Linked DNA regions of Homo sapiens: region 2 is linked to region 1. Evidence: fine-mapped expression QTL. Tissue or cell type: whole blood. Region 1 holds a variant in brackets; the other region holds the start of a gene. All regions are shown on one strand. Distances are from middle to middle.

Region 1 (8,106 bases):
AACAACAAGTAAATAAAATCCAGCATGCAAATACAAATTATACATTTGCATAAATTCTGCAATATAAAAATCAGACTCATTTCTGTCTCTCCCTCAACCAAGGCACCACTATACTATTCATCTTATAACAGAGCCAAGTAATACCTGATCCACTGACAAGCTTCAAGATCTTCTGGCTCCATTATATTCAGAATCAACTTCACCCTCTGTCTATATTTAGTTATTTATATAAGCAGAGGCACGATTTCCCACCCTTGTTCTGGGACTCTTTCCTTTGAATTTAAGATTTTACCAGTTGTGCCCAGAGAGATCTAAATGCTGAGACTTGAGAATCAAACAGAAGAATAACTTAACCCAGGAATTCACTCCACTCTTCCTGCCTTTACAAAGAGTTCTGCAAGTCAGAGTAGCAAAAATCAGCTCACATCCAAAGAAATACAATTTTCTATTTATAGAAACCCTTGCTTCACAAGGGTCTCTGATGAGATCCTCATGACAGTATCACCAGAAGAAGCCTTAAGAATACAAACTATATTAAATGTACCAAATCAGAACTGTTTTATAGTAACTTAGGCACTATTCACCACATAGTGGCAAATGACGTTCTTCTGTTTACCCAACAGCTGCGTCCCGGAGACTGCCCAAATCACCCCAGAAGTTAATACAAAGACAGACACGCAAATACATAAAGATATTTACCATCTTCAGCACTACGCACTAATTCTTCTGGCTGATTATCTACTTTTGCTTGATCTGTTCAGAAGAAATTAACAAATGGTTAACATGGCTGACCCTTGGAGAGAAAAGAACAATGAGATTGTCCCTGGAAGCCCCCGGAGTTGGAAGCAATTAGTCAAGATGCAATGAGGGGTGCAACCAAGATGTCTTCCCCAAAATACTTTCTCTTTAGATTAGCTCCTTGAGCCAGTGCCATAGCGGGAGCTCCCATTTCAGCCCGGATGCAGCTCACATCACTGCTGCACACAGACTCCCAAGGGTTAGAGGGTTAGTTCAGAGCAAGCAATCGGCCAGCAGCAGGAGAAAGCACGGGGCTGCAACAGCCTCTCTATTCTTCTGTAAAGGGTATGATGCTAGCCATGACTAACACCTTCCCAAACCCATGGTCATTAACAAATATTTGTGTGTGTGCATCATCATTCACATATGCCTCTGGGAGGCTTGCTTGGGAAGTCAACTGAAGAGATGTAACTGGGGACCAGCTGCTAAGTGGAATCTTGGCAGGCTAGTGTGAGAGTGGGTATCAGTATTTGGAAGGGAGCGTGCAGGAATACCCGTCAGCTGATGGTGATTTTTTTTTAACCCTATACATTCCTGAGTACTTTAAAGCTGCACCATGGAAATAGCCCCATGTTTCACAGGCAAGAGGTTTGCTAAATGGGCCAATTGTTCTGAGATTTTTTTTTTCTTTTTTTCTTTTTCTCAAGGCCCATCACCAACATCAGGAAAAACAATCAGGGCTGTCCAACAAAGGATTCGACTCGCCTTCTCTGGAAGCATTCAGGCGGATATGGGGGTTGGCCGCCTGTTGAGGAGGCTTTAGAGAGAATTCCTGCATTGAGGGGAGGTTAAAATGGGTGATTTTTAAGATCCCTTCTAACCCTGAGATTCCAAGATCCTTGGGATAGTCAGGACTACATTCCAAATTGGGAATACTGTCTTCAAACCCCTGGGAATCTGTGAATTTTAGGAAATGTTTGGTGAAGTGGCTTTTTCTTTTCTTTTTTTCATTTTTAAATTCTGACTTTTTATTCTTAATTGCAAATGCACAAAAAATATTCTAAACATAACAATGGCCAATTTTCAATCATATGAGTTTGGCAGTGGTTAACTTTTCACTTGATAATTTTTCTTATGACCATCTGCAATCCCAGGGGTGCATTTTAGCTTGAAAATAGCAAGAACAAAACCCCAAGAAATCATGGTTTCTTAGTCCATTTGTCTAGCACACAACTCTCTTTATATATTATGTTTTCTGCTAGTACTCAAGAAATCCTTCACCATTAAAGCAGCTGCCAGTGGGGAATCGTGTACCTAAAGTCTTTCATGTTAAGTAGTTTTGGGCTTATAGTTCCAGTATCTAGAAGAAAAGTGTGAACAGAATAGAAGGGATAAAAGAGAAAGGAAAGTCCTTGAAGCCAGGGACTAATTCAACTCCGTATCATGCAAAATTCACTGGACATCCAACGCTGTCATATATAATGTGGTCCCTTCATAAATGTTCTTGATAATAGCCTGTTAATTTTGAGTCCCAGATCTTCCGTGTAATACTAAAAAGGTCATTTCACATTTCTGAGCTTCATTTTCCTCATCTTTAAATTTGGATAACAATAATTCACCTCTCATAGGGTTGCTTGTGCTGGTTAAATGAGATAATACATGTAAAATTGTTAGGCACGTTTTGGCAAATAATATTCAATAAATGCTAGTTATGACTATTTTCACTAATACTACTAGCTACCACTATCCTTTGAAACTCACTGTACTTGAGAAACACTCAAACTGGGATTCTTCAATTAAAGGAAACCTAGTGTTTTAGTAACCAAATGTAATATATTATTTTATAAGCAAAGTTCCAGCCACTTTAGGTTGAGCCTCTTCAGCGCACTTTGGAGAGGTTATTTTCATCTGTTAACTGCCCCCATTAGAGGGTGCAGTGCACAACAGCACGCAGTGAGGCTACAGGAGAGCACATAGGCATTTTTAAGCTTAGATGGGGCATGAACAGTGAGGCGAACTTTATTCTCACTTGATGAATCTGATGAAATGTCTTCTAGACTTTTGGAAGGCATTTTCCTAGCGGCACTCCTTTCCAAAGTTTTCAAAACAGGACTGGGTTCTTCTTCTGAACCTGTTATAAAACAAAATCGATGAACACTGCACAATACCAAAAAAAAAAAAAATCCTCTAACATATGGACATAGAAATGGTAGGCTGAAAAGAGACATTATGCTATGAGTTTCTACTTTAAGAAGCACTTATTTCACAGAAGAAAATAAAATTTCTCCACTATTAATATGCTCTTAAACATAATTTTCCTGGTCAAGAAATATTTGCAAACGTAAACCCTACAAAAACAAGATTACCACATTAATAGAAATGTGATCTCTTAGTTGTTTACTCCTATTTTAGACATATGATTTGTCCTATGCCAGACATTGACTCTTCCCATTTAACATTCTAGCTTTTGAAGACAGCCATGAAATACTTCTAGGAGCATTAATAAAATTAATTCAAAACCGTGGAAGGCAGGATTCAGATGTTTAACATCTGTGTATAATTGGGTACACATATGAGTGCATTCTCCAGATCAAAGGTTGTAGACTTTCTGGGTTTCATGATCTAGTATAATTTCCAATGAAATGTTGGGAAATAACATGGGATAGTCAAATTTTTATTTTAGTAAGGCATTTTAAAGTTGCGGGAGGGAGGCCTCTATCATTTACTAATGCCGTTATTTTATAAAAGGAATGGCTGCATCATGAATAAGCTTAAGTACTGACATTTATTACTGCTGTATTCTCAGTGCCTAGAACAGTGGCTGGAAATAAACACTTCAAAATATTTGCTGAATCAATGAGTGATTCGATTAAGGAATCAATTAATTTAAGAACCACTTCTCTAGACAATAATTTCCTGAAATACATTCCAGTTCTGCCTAGTACATTCCATAGCAAATGGATTCTAAGATGAATTAGATTTGGATGTTCTCTGTTCAAATTTAAAATGTTCCTTACTGCGGACCTTCTCTGTGCATAATGGCCCAGCATTTCCAAAAGTATTTGACTACTGAACCTTTAATTTTTCCCAAAGGAGCATACTGAGGTATTGCTTAGTTAAGAGCTCAGCCGCAAGTCAAATGTGTTAGCTTGCTCCCCAAAATTACAGTACCCTTATAGTAGGTTTCTCTTCATTTTTCACCCCACCCCCACTGCAGTTTGCTTTAAAATAATAATTTAGGTTAGAGTATATAAACCTAAATTAAAATCATGACTATACCATTTGATACTTCTTAATTGGCTTGTTATTCTAAAATGTCTTCTCTGGGCTCTGTTTAGGTGATTTTTTTTTTTTTTTTTTTTTTTTTTGAGATGAAGTCTTGCTCTGTAGCCCAGGCTGGAGTGCAGTGGCGTGATCTCGACTCACTGCAAGCTCCGCCTCAGGGTTCACACCATTCTGCTGCCTCAGCCTCCCGAGTAGCTGGGACTACAGCCACCACCACGCCCGGCTACTTTATTGTATTTTTTAGTAGAGATGGGGTTTCACCATGTTAGCCAGGATGGTCTCGATATCCTCACCTCATGATCTGCCCGCCTTGGCCTCCCAAAGTGCTGGGATTACAGGCGTGAGCCACCGTGCCCAGCCTAGGTGATTATTTAACGCTGCCTTTTTAGATAGGCTTTTTACTATTCAGTCAGTTATGCTGGGATACACATTAGATGATAGTCTCTAACATAATTGCAAATTTGCAAGCGCTCCTTCTCCTGTGGGTCAGTTTACACTAGCAACTCATGGGCAGTTTAGTAAGAGCCTACCTCAACAAGTTTAACATGCTGGCTTTATTCTTGCCATTA[C/T]ATTAATTAATTATTAATTAATTAAATTTATTTACTTTAGAGATTAAATAAATTTAGAGATTTAATTAGAGATTTATAAATAAATATGTATGGTTTTAGAGATTGATATTTCAATTTCTTTCTTTTTTTTATTAACAACAAAATTTTTTAGAGGGGCTTCAACTTAACTGAATAGGATTAAAGGTGGATTCTTTGGTCAGTGTTCAAGAAGAGACCCTATAGCTACTTACAAAGGAGTCCACACCTCAAAGTAAGCCACTCAGTAAAGCTTATCTATTTTCACTGGAACGAAAAGGAGCTAAACAAATGACAAATTCTACTAAACTACAAGGAAGGCAATCAGCATCAGTTGTGCAACTTTGGTTAAAATGTCCCAGCCAAAAAACATTCTCTATCATTTCATCATTTTAATCAGGTAGCTTCTCATTCCTATTTGCTCTGGGGTTTCTCTGCTAAAATGTCCACATGTTGATTAAATAGCAAACTGAGACAAGCCCTACATTTTACAGCCTGGCCGCCAAAACCAACGCCCCCACGTTCATGTAGATGAATGTGGAGATCGACTCAGGTCATCAACTTAGCCAAGGCTGGAGCCAGAGAAATGTACCTGGCCAGGCAATGCCCTTAGGTGGCATCAGGTGAGTCATCTGGCCAAAGTCATACTCTAGAAAGGGAAGATTGTGCATATAATTGAAAATGAGAGGGAGAAAGTGGCAACAAAACACCACAGCACAAGGTATCTGAGGGAAGGAAAGTTCCGGCCTTGTATTTTGTCCCTAGCATTTAGCCACCACTGTGGTAAGATATTGCTCCCGAATGGGAAATTTGTGTCCATCTGTGGCACATCTTTGCGACAAATCTTACCAGACTTCTATAAAGGTTGCCAATTAAGGAAGAAATTCTAAATATTTCCAGGAGGAAAACTAGCTTAAATGTATTAAAGGTACTTTCCAAACCCAAAAAGTCATTTAAAAAGTATTTTTTGAAACCTAAAAGTTCTATAGGTAGATTAAAGAGAAGTCAACTCAGACTCTGAAACAGCCTTATAGGAAAGCTGTTTTACGTAATGCATTTGATTAAAAAATATAAATAATTTTTTTAATTAAGAAAGTCTCAGGAACACAGAAGTGGTAAGAAGAATTTAACATCATTTAAGAATTATGTAATGCATTTGATTAAAAAATATAAATAATTTTTTTAATTAAGAAAGTCTCAGGAACACAGAAGTGGTAAGAAGAATTTAACATCATTTAAGAATATCAAATTAATCCCAATTAAAAAAAATCATCCTTTACATCAGCATTCCATAAAGCAGACTCACTGTGAGTTAAAAAATTTTAAATGCTCACTGGAAGGATTTCTCCAGCTCTCTGCATTAGAACTGGTGTTTCCATCTGAAAAATCAGACTCAGAGAAACCTTCTTTTTCTTCCTCTTTCTCTTGTTTCATATATGGCGATGCTAGAGTCAATTCAACTTTACTTGTTTTTGTAGAGTTTTCTTTGTTCATCAGGAGAGGAATGGGTTGCCTATTTCTGGACACACTAATTGCTTCAGAAGCCTCTCCAAAGCCAGGTTCCTGAAGAGTCCCTTGTCCCCCTGCAACCCCACTTTCACTGTCCCTGTCCTCTGGGGGGGTTACAGTTTTAATGGTCCCTATTTCATGAGCCACATAAAGTTGTGGGGTTCTAGGGATCTCAACTCCACTTCTGGAACCACAAAAATCTACCAATAAATCAGTCACAAGTGCGTCTCCTCCCAACATTTTATCACATTGGTTGACTTGAGATTCCAAACCATTACTTTTATCCTTCATTTCAGAGGTCTGTGAGGCTGCCCTGTAAAAATGGGGCACTGTCCCCAAGAACCTGGTCTGCTCTGACTGTGAGGACTCCTTCTCGTGAGTTTCTTCTCTCACTGACACCTGGGGCTGATAAGGAGGAGCTTCAGTTATTTCTTTAAGAAGTTTCTCAAAACCAGCATCAAAAGCACTCTCAGTTATTAACGGAGCCTCGGCCTTTTCTACTGTTTCTTTTAATTCCTCAGGATGGCATTCAGAAGTGGCTCGCCTGGGCTCCTCTGTACTACCTATTAACTTTGATGGAGAAAGATTCCCTGTATCACTTTCATATTTTGAGGGGAAGGTTTCAGTTTCTTCCTTCAGTAGTTTTTCTAAGCCAGCACTGAATTCGAGGAACTCTGATTTGGGTTGAACAATTGTTTCCCTCACAATTTCTTCCACTTCCTGAGGGAGGCCTTTGCCATATTGAGCAACAATGGAAGCAAATGAGCTAAGCGTCTGGTCTGATGGAGACATTTGGGCAGCTAAATAAGATCCAACTTCATGAGTTTTATCAGGAACTACATTGGAGGAATAAAAATCCTTCCTGTCTGGAACTATGGTGTCCATCGTAGCCCATGGTGATATCACTCCTGGAGGATTTAGGGGGCTACATACTGGCTGTACTGCTTCAGGAAATTCTGGGTTCACTTCTCCAGGACCTACTTCCCTTCCAGCTGGATAACTTAACCATACTTCTCCACACAGCTTCTGTAATGCAGCACTTACATCATTCAATACAGGTCTGGGTGGAAGAATGACTTTCTCTACAGTCTCCGAAATTTCCGTTTGAGAAGGGTGTACCCTAGCCTGGGGAACAAGATGAGCATCCTGGGGAAAAAGCATATCTTGGGGAGGGCTGGCCACATCCCCAAAAGAACCCTTTCTGGAAAGCTGGGAAGTTGGATCCAATGGATGAGAATCTTCTGCAGCCATCTGAATCAAATTCTGTGTGCTTAGCTGGCACTCACCACTTTCAGCTTTCTTGAGGAGAGCTGTATTTCCAAAAGTTTCATCTCTCACTGGAAAAGGAGCTAGTATTTCTCTCTTATCAGCTGAAGTATTGTGACTCTGTTCTATCCCTTTTCCAAAAAATCTCCCCTCTTCCAGCTTAGAGTTGGTTCCAGTGATAACAGGCGCCAACTTGGCTTGCAAGGGAGAGGGTGAAGTTCCAGTTGCTTCCTTCAGGAGTTTGTCTAGACTAGCAGTCAAAGAGTTCCGTTTAACCTTTGGATGAACTACTGTTTTGTCAACATGCTCATTAATGATCTTCTCAGGTCCTTTGACTTCTTCCTCAGTATCAGCAAAATCTGTTTTTTGAGGCCATGTCCTATTTTCAGAAACACTTGGTTCAAGCACTTGTTTTCCATGAACTTTTCCACCAGAGGGTTGAATTGCTGGTGTTGAGGTTTCTGAAAGCAGTTTCTGCAAGCTGTCATTAAAAGTGTCTTTGCAGTCTTTAGACAAAACATTGGTTTTTATTATGGATTCTTGAATCTCTTGTTCTGAGTAATCCTTTTCTTCCTTAAACACTGGAGTAACAATCCCTTCCGTATTCTTTTCCACATTTTCCTTTGATGACTCATTTCCTGGCAACTGATAAGTATACTTTCTAAGTGGACTCAAAGGAAATGTGATTTCATCTGGTAGCACCTGGAGTATGCCCTTTGAATTT
Region 2 (8,106 bases), 88 kb after region 1:
GAGTGCCAGGAACAGTGCCAGGCTATGTGGATACAGAAATAAACCACAAAGTCTGAGCCCTCAGGGGCTCAATCTTTTCCTAAATTGTTCTTTTCATCTCCATCCTATTCCAATCATAGCTGCACATGTCTTTGCTCCCTTTTTCCTTCTCTTTCTCCCCCTCTCCAGTTCTGAGCCACTTAAGAGTGAGGTCATGTGCTTCTCCCACATTCTGCAAAAGTCCTAGCACAGGTCCAAGTGCCCAAATGGGCACTAGGCAAAAATACTGTATGTAGTGACTTTAGAGGCAAATACTTAGTGAAACACATGGCTTTATTACCATTTTTTAAACCTGCTTTCATTATACTGTATTTCTGTCAACCTACCTTCCCCAAAATTCCCTTAAAGCAGTTTTCCTAACAATCTCAAGAGGTTATAGATTAATAATAAAAAATAAATAAGCAGAAACCACTCTCCTCTCAATGATCTGTGGATCATGTGTTCTGCATGAAGGCAGTCAATAGAGGAGGCCCTTAGAAAATCAGGAGGAGGCGTCAAAAGCTTGAAGCAACAGAAAGTAGAAACATTTTCTCATATCTCATTCATCTGGATGTGGAAATTCTCTACCAGACTTCAACTTGGGAAACCATGAATAGAAAACAACCCAGAATCAGACTTTTAAGACAAGAAGGACCCTCATCTGGTCCAATTCTCTAACTTTATAAGGAAACCAAGGCTCAGGGAGAAAGTGTGACTAAACCCAGATTGCACAGATTGTCTTTGCCAGATGCAGAAGTTGAAACCAAGCCACCTGCCTCCCAGTGCAGGGCCCATTGTTTCCTCAGAGCATCCAGGAGCACGGCGTATGCCTGAGAGCAGTCCTTGAGGCAATGGCTACTGGCACTCACATGCCCCCATGGGTACACTGCCTTTCCAGTGGCTCTCATTGCTTCCTCTTAGCAAGCCTCTGCCTTGCTTAGGGCAAGTCAAGACAGCTCCCAGGAGCTCTGAGACTCCCTGTGTAACTGAACAATTCCCTTGAGTGGCAAGCCTGCTTTCATTCTATAAAATGGGACTATCTTCTGTCCTCTTCTGTTCAGGATTGTGATGAGGATCAATGAGATACTAGCCACCAAGGAAACCTACATTCTTTGAAGAAAACTTGAGTCCCAATAGAGCATTTACATCATGATTAAGTCCTACTAATACCAAGAGTTGGATTCCAGGATTTTATAAAGACTGATAATGTTTTATTGCCTCTATGTTTAAACATTTTTAAAATATTAATAGCATACACACATGCATGCAATCCAAGTAACAAACAATAACACCTGACACTTGATCCTTATAGTGATTCTGGTAAGTGAGGATAGAATTTGTTTATTATCATCAATTTATAAAAGTGGAAACCAGCTCAGAGAAGCCATCTGTCTTGCCCAAGGTCACACAGGTAATAAAATGCAATGCTGGGGCAATGACTTTCTCCAGGACCCTCCTGAATTTTCTGCAAATTACTGTGCAAATTAGTTTTTTAATTTTCTGCTCAAATTTTGCACATCAGCAACACTAAAGAGCTACCTTTTCTGTTATATTTGAGATGTTTAGCAAGAGTACAGCTTGACCCTGCATTTTCAACAGCAGCCCCATGGCCCAGCACTCATCTCTCCCACAAGATAAATACAGGGAAATTATGAGGGGTGAACTTCGGGGCTCACAAACAAGATTAACCTTCATGATGCTTTTAATTATTCATGATTTTTTCTCTACATTCTGTCAAAAACAATCTGAGATGGCTCTTAGCTCTGACAATAATTCAGTCAAAAGGGCTGTATTTGTGTGTGTGTTTTTAAAATTTGTTAATATAGATGCAAAGAAAAAGATTTGGAACGCTATATCCCAAGTTTTGCTTTAATTATTTGAGTATAGATGTATTTATATCATTATTATTATTATTATTATTTGAGATGGAGTCTTGCTCTGTCACCCAGGCTGGAGTACAGTGGCATGATCTCAGCTCACTGCAACCTCCGCCTCCCGGGTTCAAGAGATTCTCCTGCCTTAGCCTCCTGAGCAGCTGGGACTACAGGCGCATGCCACCACGCGCAGCTAAGTTTTGTATTTTTAGTAGAGATGGGGTTTCACTATATTGGCCAGGCTGGTCTCGAACTCCTGACCTTGTGATCCACCTGCCTCGGCCTCCCAAAGTGCTGGGATTCCAGGCATTAGCCACTGCACCCGGCCTGATATTATTATTAATGTTAATCTGGATCTTATATTTTTTTCTACAATGAATATGTTTAGTTTTGGTAATAAGAAAATAAAGGATATTTTTATTTTTAAAACATTCTTCATTCTGAAAAATGGGAAAAAAGTGGATGTCTCCCCAGGGACTAGAGAAGCTCTATTACTGTGAACCAGAGAGTGGAAAATTCAAACAGTAGTCTAAGCCCTCTAGAACCTTGGTCCTACTTCTCCATCTGGGTACTCGAAGCCCCTAAGAATATATAACAATCTGCCAGGACACCAGTTTTATTCAGATATTTTGAAGAAAAAACTTTATATTTTTAAATCAAAGTCCATATATTATGAAATCAAATGAAAAAAATTGCATAAGCACAGGAGCATGTGTTGGTCTTCTTTTCCATTGCAGGATCTTCTATGGAAAAGTTTGGTAAGCCCTAAGACAAACATTATAATCTTATCCCCCCAACTTTTGAGAGAGTGACAACCTCATTAATACCAAGTAAGTTTTCCTCTTAATTTAAAAAAAAAAAAAGCCACATTTTTCTTCATCTACTGTATGTTTAAAAATTCTTTGTAAAACAGGTGACAAGCAAACATATTTCCAGGGAGCTCTGGAAGCCTATACAGGCACAGTTCACCCTACCTCCCTTGCCCAAAGAGGAGAAACACCTAGACTAGCATCTGGGTTTTGAAGATGGTGGAACCTGGGCTTCCCCTAGGCTGCCTCACATTTCTACAAGGCAGCAGACCACTCTGCACAAGGTGCTAATTCATTCATTCCACAAATGTTTATTGAGCAAAACCTGAAAAAGGCCTCTTAGGGGACAGTGGAATCATTCACCAGCCAACGGTTAGGGCTAACGGGTCAGATGTGGACAATCAATCTTTCATTAGACCCCAAACCACCTCTAGGATAAAGCAAACAGGGCCCTGCCCCACCCACGCACTAGCAGCTGGGCAGGATTAGGGTAGGCCTTCTAGAACAGTACTGCTGCTGAGAGGCTAAGGCAGTCACAGATTACCTCCAGAATAACGGAAACTCCTGCACCATAAATGACATAATAGCTCTAAGATGTTTTGCATAGTGCCTGACACCTGGTGAGAACACAATGTTAGACATTTTTGCTCTCCTTATTCCAGCTTGCTCTTACTTAAGGAGCACAAAGACAGTGTAAAGAACACAGGTTTTAGAATCAGAGATTGGATTTGAATTCCAGCTATGCTACTTCCTAGCTAAGTGACTAAAGGAAGCAATCTTTCTGAGCCTGTTTCTCACCTATAAAATAGGGTATAGTACATCACCCCTCATGTGGCTTTGTGAGAATTAAGGATATATTACATACAAAGAAGTGTCTGGCCCATAGTAAGTGCCCACTAAACAGCAGTCAACATTGCCCTGCTGCCGTCCCCACACCTCTTCTCCTTCCTAGCTGCTCTTGATGGGTTCTGCAATCTGATTTCACCTGGATACCACACTAAGGGTGAGAAGGGGCAGAACTTCAGGGGTGGAGGAAAGTGAGGGAAGGGAAATGCTGGAGACCTTCCATAGAAATCCAGCCAAGTCCTCAGCTCCTTTCAATCATCCTACTCTATCTGGCTGCTCCATCCAGCAGACAGCAGGGGTCACCATCCTGGTGGGGAATGGCTGCCAACAAGGGGACGGGAAGCTGGATGGCAGTTTGCATCCACCCCACCTTCCAGGGTCTATCTGTCTGAAGCCCCACCGGGCTTCCTCTGCACATCCCTGCCGGGCTGTGTGGCTCAGGGGGCTGACAGGGTGATTCATAGCCTGTTCTTATCTAGGCTTCTATCTCAACCCTGCGCCCAAAGCCCTGGAGGCTGCTGGTCACAAACCAGCACTAAATGAAAAGAAGAACTTTTCATTAAGGCAGGAAGTGGAGCCCCTCAAGGTCAAAGGGGATTTATAAAGAGAGGAGGAAAGAAAGGGAAGACGCGGCAGGATGGGTGCAGAGAAAGAGAGACCCACTTCCTATATGCTGGTGGAGCCCTGTGTCTTAGACGCTAAAAACAGTCGCTTTTCCACTTCAAAGGATGATAAAGCCCACTCGTGTAGTTTATAGCTCGCCGTGGGACGAGGTGTGGGTATGGAAGAGAATTCCAAAACACGTCTTATTTTCAAAGGAGAAATCATCATCCCCTGGCCGGCCCTTCCCAACACCCCACCTGTAAACAGGTGCTGACGCTCCTACCTTTCTGCACCTGAGCAATCTGGGGGCAGTTACTCTGCAGCCAGGTCTCCCCAGCACCCAGCCCCAAGCCCAGGTCAGTCCCTGAAAGCCCTAGAAAACGCGATAGCTCAGCAGAACCCTCGCCTACCCGGGCATCCCAGCTTCCTGGCCGCCTGGGCAGCGGAGGTGGCTCTGGAGTAGGTGGGAAACTGAGGAAAGGAGCTTTCCCCGTGCCAAAACGCAGTTCCCATTTTAGAACTGGTTAGACTAAGGAACAACATTCTACACCACCTCCCTCACTTAACAGAGGAGGAAGCAGAGACCAAGAGAGGGAAACAAAGTTGCCCGAGGTAACACAGCGAGTGGGCCAAGTAGAGACTGGAACCCGAGTGCGCACCTCCGAGTCGCTGCCGGGCAGGGAGCGCGCCTCGCCGTCTCTCTTGTCTTCTGGCCCCCAGCCCTCGGCCTGGCGGTGCAAACCGCGCAGCCCCGGGCGCGGCGCGTTACCTTCCCCCGGGCAAGGCGTTGCGAGCCTTCACTCTCCCGACGGACGCTGGCGGCACGGCCCGGGTGTCGCCCGGCACTGTCAACGCAGAGCGGCGTGCGCGAGTCCCTCCCCGCTACCCCCGCCCCCGGCGGGCGGTGCGGTGGGGCCGGTCCCGGGTGCTCGGGCCAATGGCGCTTCGCCCGCTCCCCGCCCCGGCCCGCCCCGGCCTCCTCGCCCGGCACACAGCGCCTGCCAGCCCCTGCCCTCTCCCCTTCCCTCCCTTCGCCCTCCGCCCCCGCCTGCTGCTTCTCTCCGGTTCCTAGCCTCCTTCTCAAGTGTACCTTGCCCCGAAACAACCTGTTTTCTGTGCAAATAAAGCAGCACTGTTGTTATTGTTATTATTATTTTTATCACGGCGCGTTAGGGGGCCTTGGAGCCCGAGAGTGTGGAGCACTAGGAGCCTCTGCACTCCGAGAAGGGACAGCCACCGCGCAGGGAAAGGGGCGCGGAGGGTATGGAGCCCGGTCATGGGGTAACTTGCTTTAACCCTCGGGACGTCAATTTCCTCACATGTGAAATAGAAGAAGGGGGGAAAAAAGTTGTTGAGAGGACTAAATGAAGTGATGCTTTAAAATACAATAATACCTAGAGAAAGGTGAGGGCGTCATGCACTGCCTGAGCTACTTACTGGGGTATGCACAGAGGACTGGTAAGCTCCTGGAAGACGCTGTGTGGCAGGGAGGCAGACAATGCAATACAGTAAATACAATATTGTGGTCGGGCGCGGTGGCTCACACCTGTAATCCCAGCATTATGGGAGGCCGAGGCAGGTGGATAACCCGAGGTCAGGAGTTCGGGACCAGCCCGGCCAACATAGCAAAACTCTGTTCTAATTAGAAAAGAAAAAAGAAAAATTAGCTGGGTGTGGTGGCGAGCGCCCGTAGTCCCAACTACTTAGGAAGCTGAGGCAGGAGAATCGCTTTAACCCGAGAGGTGGAGGCTGCCGTGAGCCAAGATCGCACCACTGCACCCCATCCTGGGTGACAGAGCAAGACTCTGTCTCAAAAAAATAAATAAAATAATTTAAAAATTGTATCACGACCTATTTTTTACAAGTTACCCATGATGGGGCCAGCCCAGGCAAACCTCTGAAGGAGATGAACCTTAAAGCCTTTTTCCTTATCATTTCCTGGACTAGTGTTGTCCATTTAACTGAGGGTGGCCCAGGTCTGCCTTTGGTTCTTCCAAAGGTCTTCCTTCTCCCAAACTTACAAATACTTATCCCCAAGGGCTTCAGTTAGTGCCCAGTGCAGGCTGCTAGCCTGGCCCAAGAGTCCTGGCACTGTGCAGAGATGTGTATTCTGGCTTCCTTCAGCCTTTGAGAGCCTGGTGTGTCCCTGTGCTGGGTGAGCATGCCACATGCAAAAGAGGAATAAGCCACTGGTCTTGCCTTTGAAGAAACAAATTTGTAAATAATTTCATTTTAGGGTAAGTGTTATAATAGGTTGACAAAGTGTTGTAGAGTCACTACGCTGAAGGAGGGGGACAATAAAAAATACAAATGTGACCAAGGTAGGTCTTGAAGGAGGGCTACAAATTAGGTCAGATTGAAGGGGTGACAGAAGACTGGGCACAGAGAGGCAGGCAGAGACATGGAGATGCCTGTCATATGTCACGGCTATTGCACAGGATTTGGGACAATGAGGCAGAGATGAAGCTAAGGAGGTAGGTGGGCAGATGTTGGAGGAGTGGCTGTACCTGCCTTGCTGAGGGAAGCAGGCTGTGTCCTGTTGGTGATGGCTGTTGGCGAATGATTTTAGGCAGGGGAGTAGCGTGACCTCAGATGCTTTTGGTACTTCACTTTTATTGTTGATTGCACCTGCCTTGGTTATCCCCTTCCTGCCCCTCTCTAGCTCTGGAGGGCAGGCACTGGGTCTTGCTCACCTCTGGGTGCCTTGTATCATCTGGCATAGGACTTTGAAGGAACTAAATACATGCTGTTCCCAGTATCACTCGTCCCCTGGAAACAAATAGCAATGCCTAAATGCTAGAGAGGGTCACAGGATCCTTGCTTCAGGTTGTGGGGCAGGCAAGTGGGGGAGAAATTTTAAGGCAGGGTCTTGTTATGGCTCCCAATTCATCTAAATCTTGTATGGCTCAGAGACTAAATCTTAGAGCTCTTGGCCAAGATCCAAATGCTGTTAGAAATGTCAATTTCTAATAAGACCTTAGACCAATTACTCAACCTCCCTGTGCTTCAGTTTGCTCATTTGTTAGAGAGAAAATAATTGCACTGCTCTCTCAGGCCTACTGTGAAGATTAAAAGAAGATGCACATGTTTAGCATGATGCCTTGCACATACAGTGCACTGAAAAAGCCTTGGTTAACACGATCATATCAAGTCAGCAATGGCCTGTTCCACTTATCCCATAGGAACCCTTCAAAATGGTTTACATATAAGTGACACTTAAACTTTAGAGAATTCTAGGTTGACATTGAAGGGGAAGGCAAGAGGGTAGGGATAGCATGGTGTAAGGTTAAATGCACAGACTTTGGTGTATCTCCTGGCTCTACCACAGAACTCGCTGGTTGACTTTGGACAAGTCACTTAATTTCCTTCTTTCTCTGGGTGACTTTAGACAAGTCTCCTCCCTCCCTCCCTCCCTCCCTCCTTTCCTTCCTTCCTTCCTTCCTTCCTTCCTTTTTTGGCAGGGTCTCACTTTGTTGCCCAGGCAGTGGCACAAACACAGCGCACTGCAGCCTCAACCTCCCAGGCTCAAGCCATCCTCCCACCTCAGCCTTCCAGGTAGCTGGGACTACAAGCACACACCACCACGCCCAGTTAATTATTGTATTCTTAGTAGAGACGTGGTTTCGCAATGTTGACCTCTTGAGCTGAAGCGATCTGCCCGCCTCAGCATCTCTAAGTGTTGGGATTACGGGCGTGAGCCACTGCACCCAGCCTAAGTCACTTAACTTCTGTTAGCGATTGTTCTTCTATAAAATAGAAGTAGTCATATTACCTGCCCCATGCCAAGGAGATAACACATAACACATATAGCATATTGCCTGGCCCAAGGTAAGATCTCAATTCCTGTTAGCTAATGGTGTGATAATGGTTGGAAGAGAGTTATTATAGTTTTTGGAAAGAATAATCTCCATGCCTCTGCCTGCCTCTCTGCACCCCAGTTTTCTGTCACCCCTTCC

The links. PIP is the estimated chance that this variant, and not a neighbour inherited with it, causes the effect.
Region 2: it holds the start of SYTL2, and the variant in region 1 is fine-mapped to the expression of SYTL2 in whole blood (TOPMed, PIP above 0.99).

The regions. Positions count from the first base shown.
Region 1 is chr11:85,718,091-85,726,196 of GRCh38, forward strand. It overlaps SYTL2 (synaptotagmin like 2), which reads right to left. Exons shown (of 20, transcript NM_206927.4): 8 at 5,942-8,106; 9 at 2,768-2,869; 10 at 700-753. Among named protein-coding and RNA genes, the nearest start is that of CCDC89, 36 kb to the left of the region's middle. The variant C/T (reference allele first, on the strand shown) is at 4,593.
Region 2 is chr11:85,806,145-85,814,250 of GRCh38, forward strand. SYTL2 (synaptotagmin like 2) reads right to left here and starts at 4,997. Exons shown (of 20, transcript NM_206927.4): 1 at 4,810-4,997. RefSeq lists a silencer at 4,956-5,135.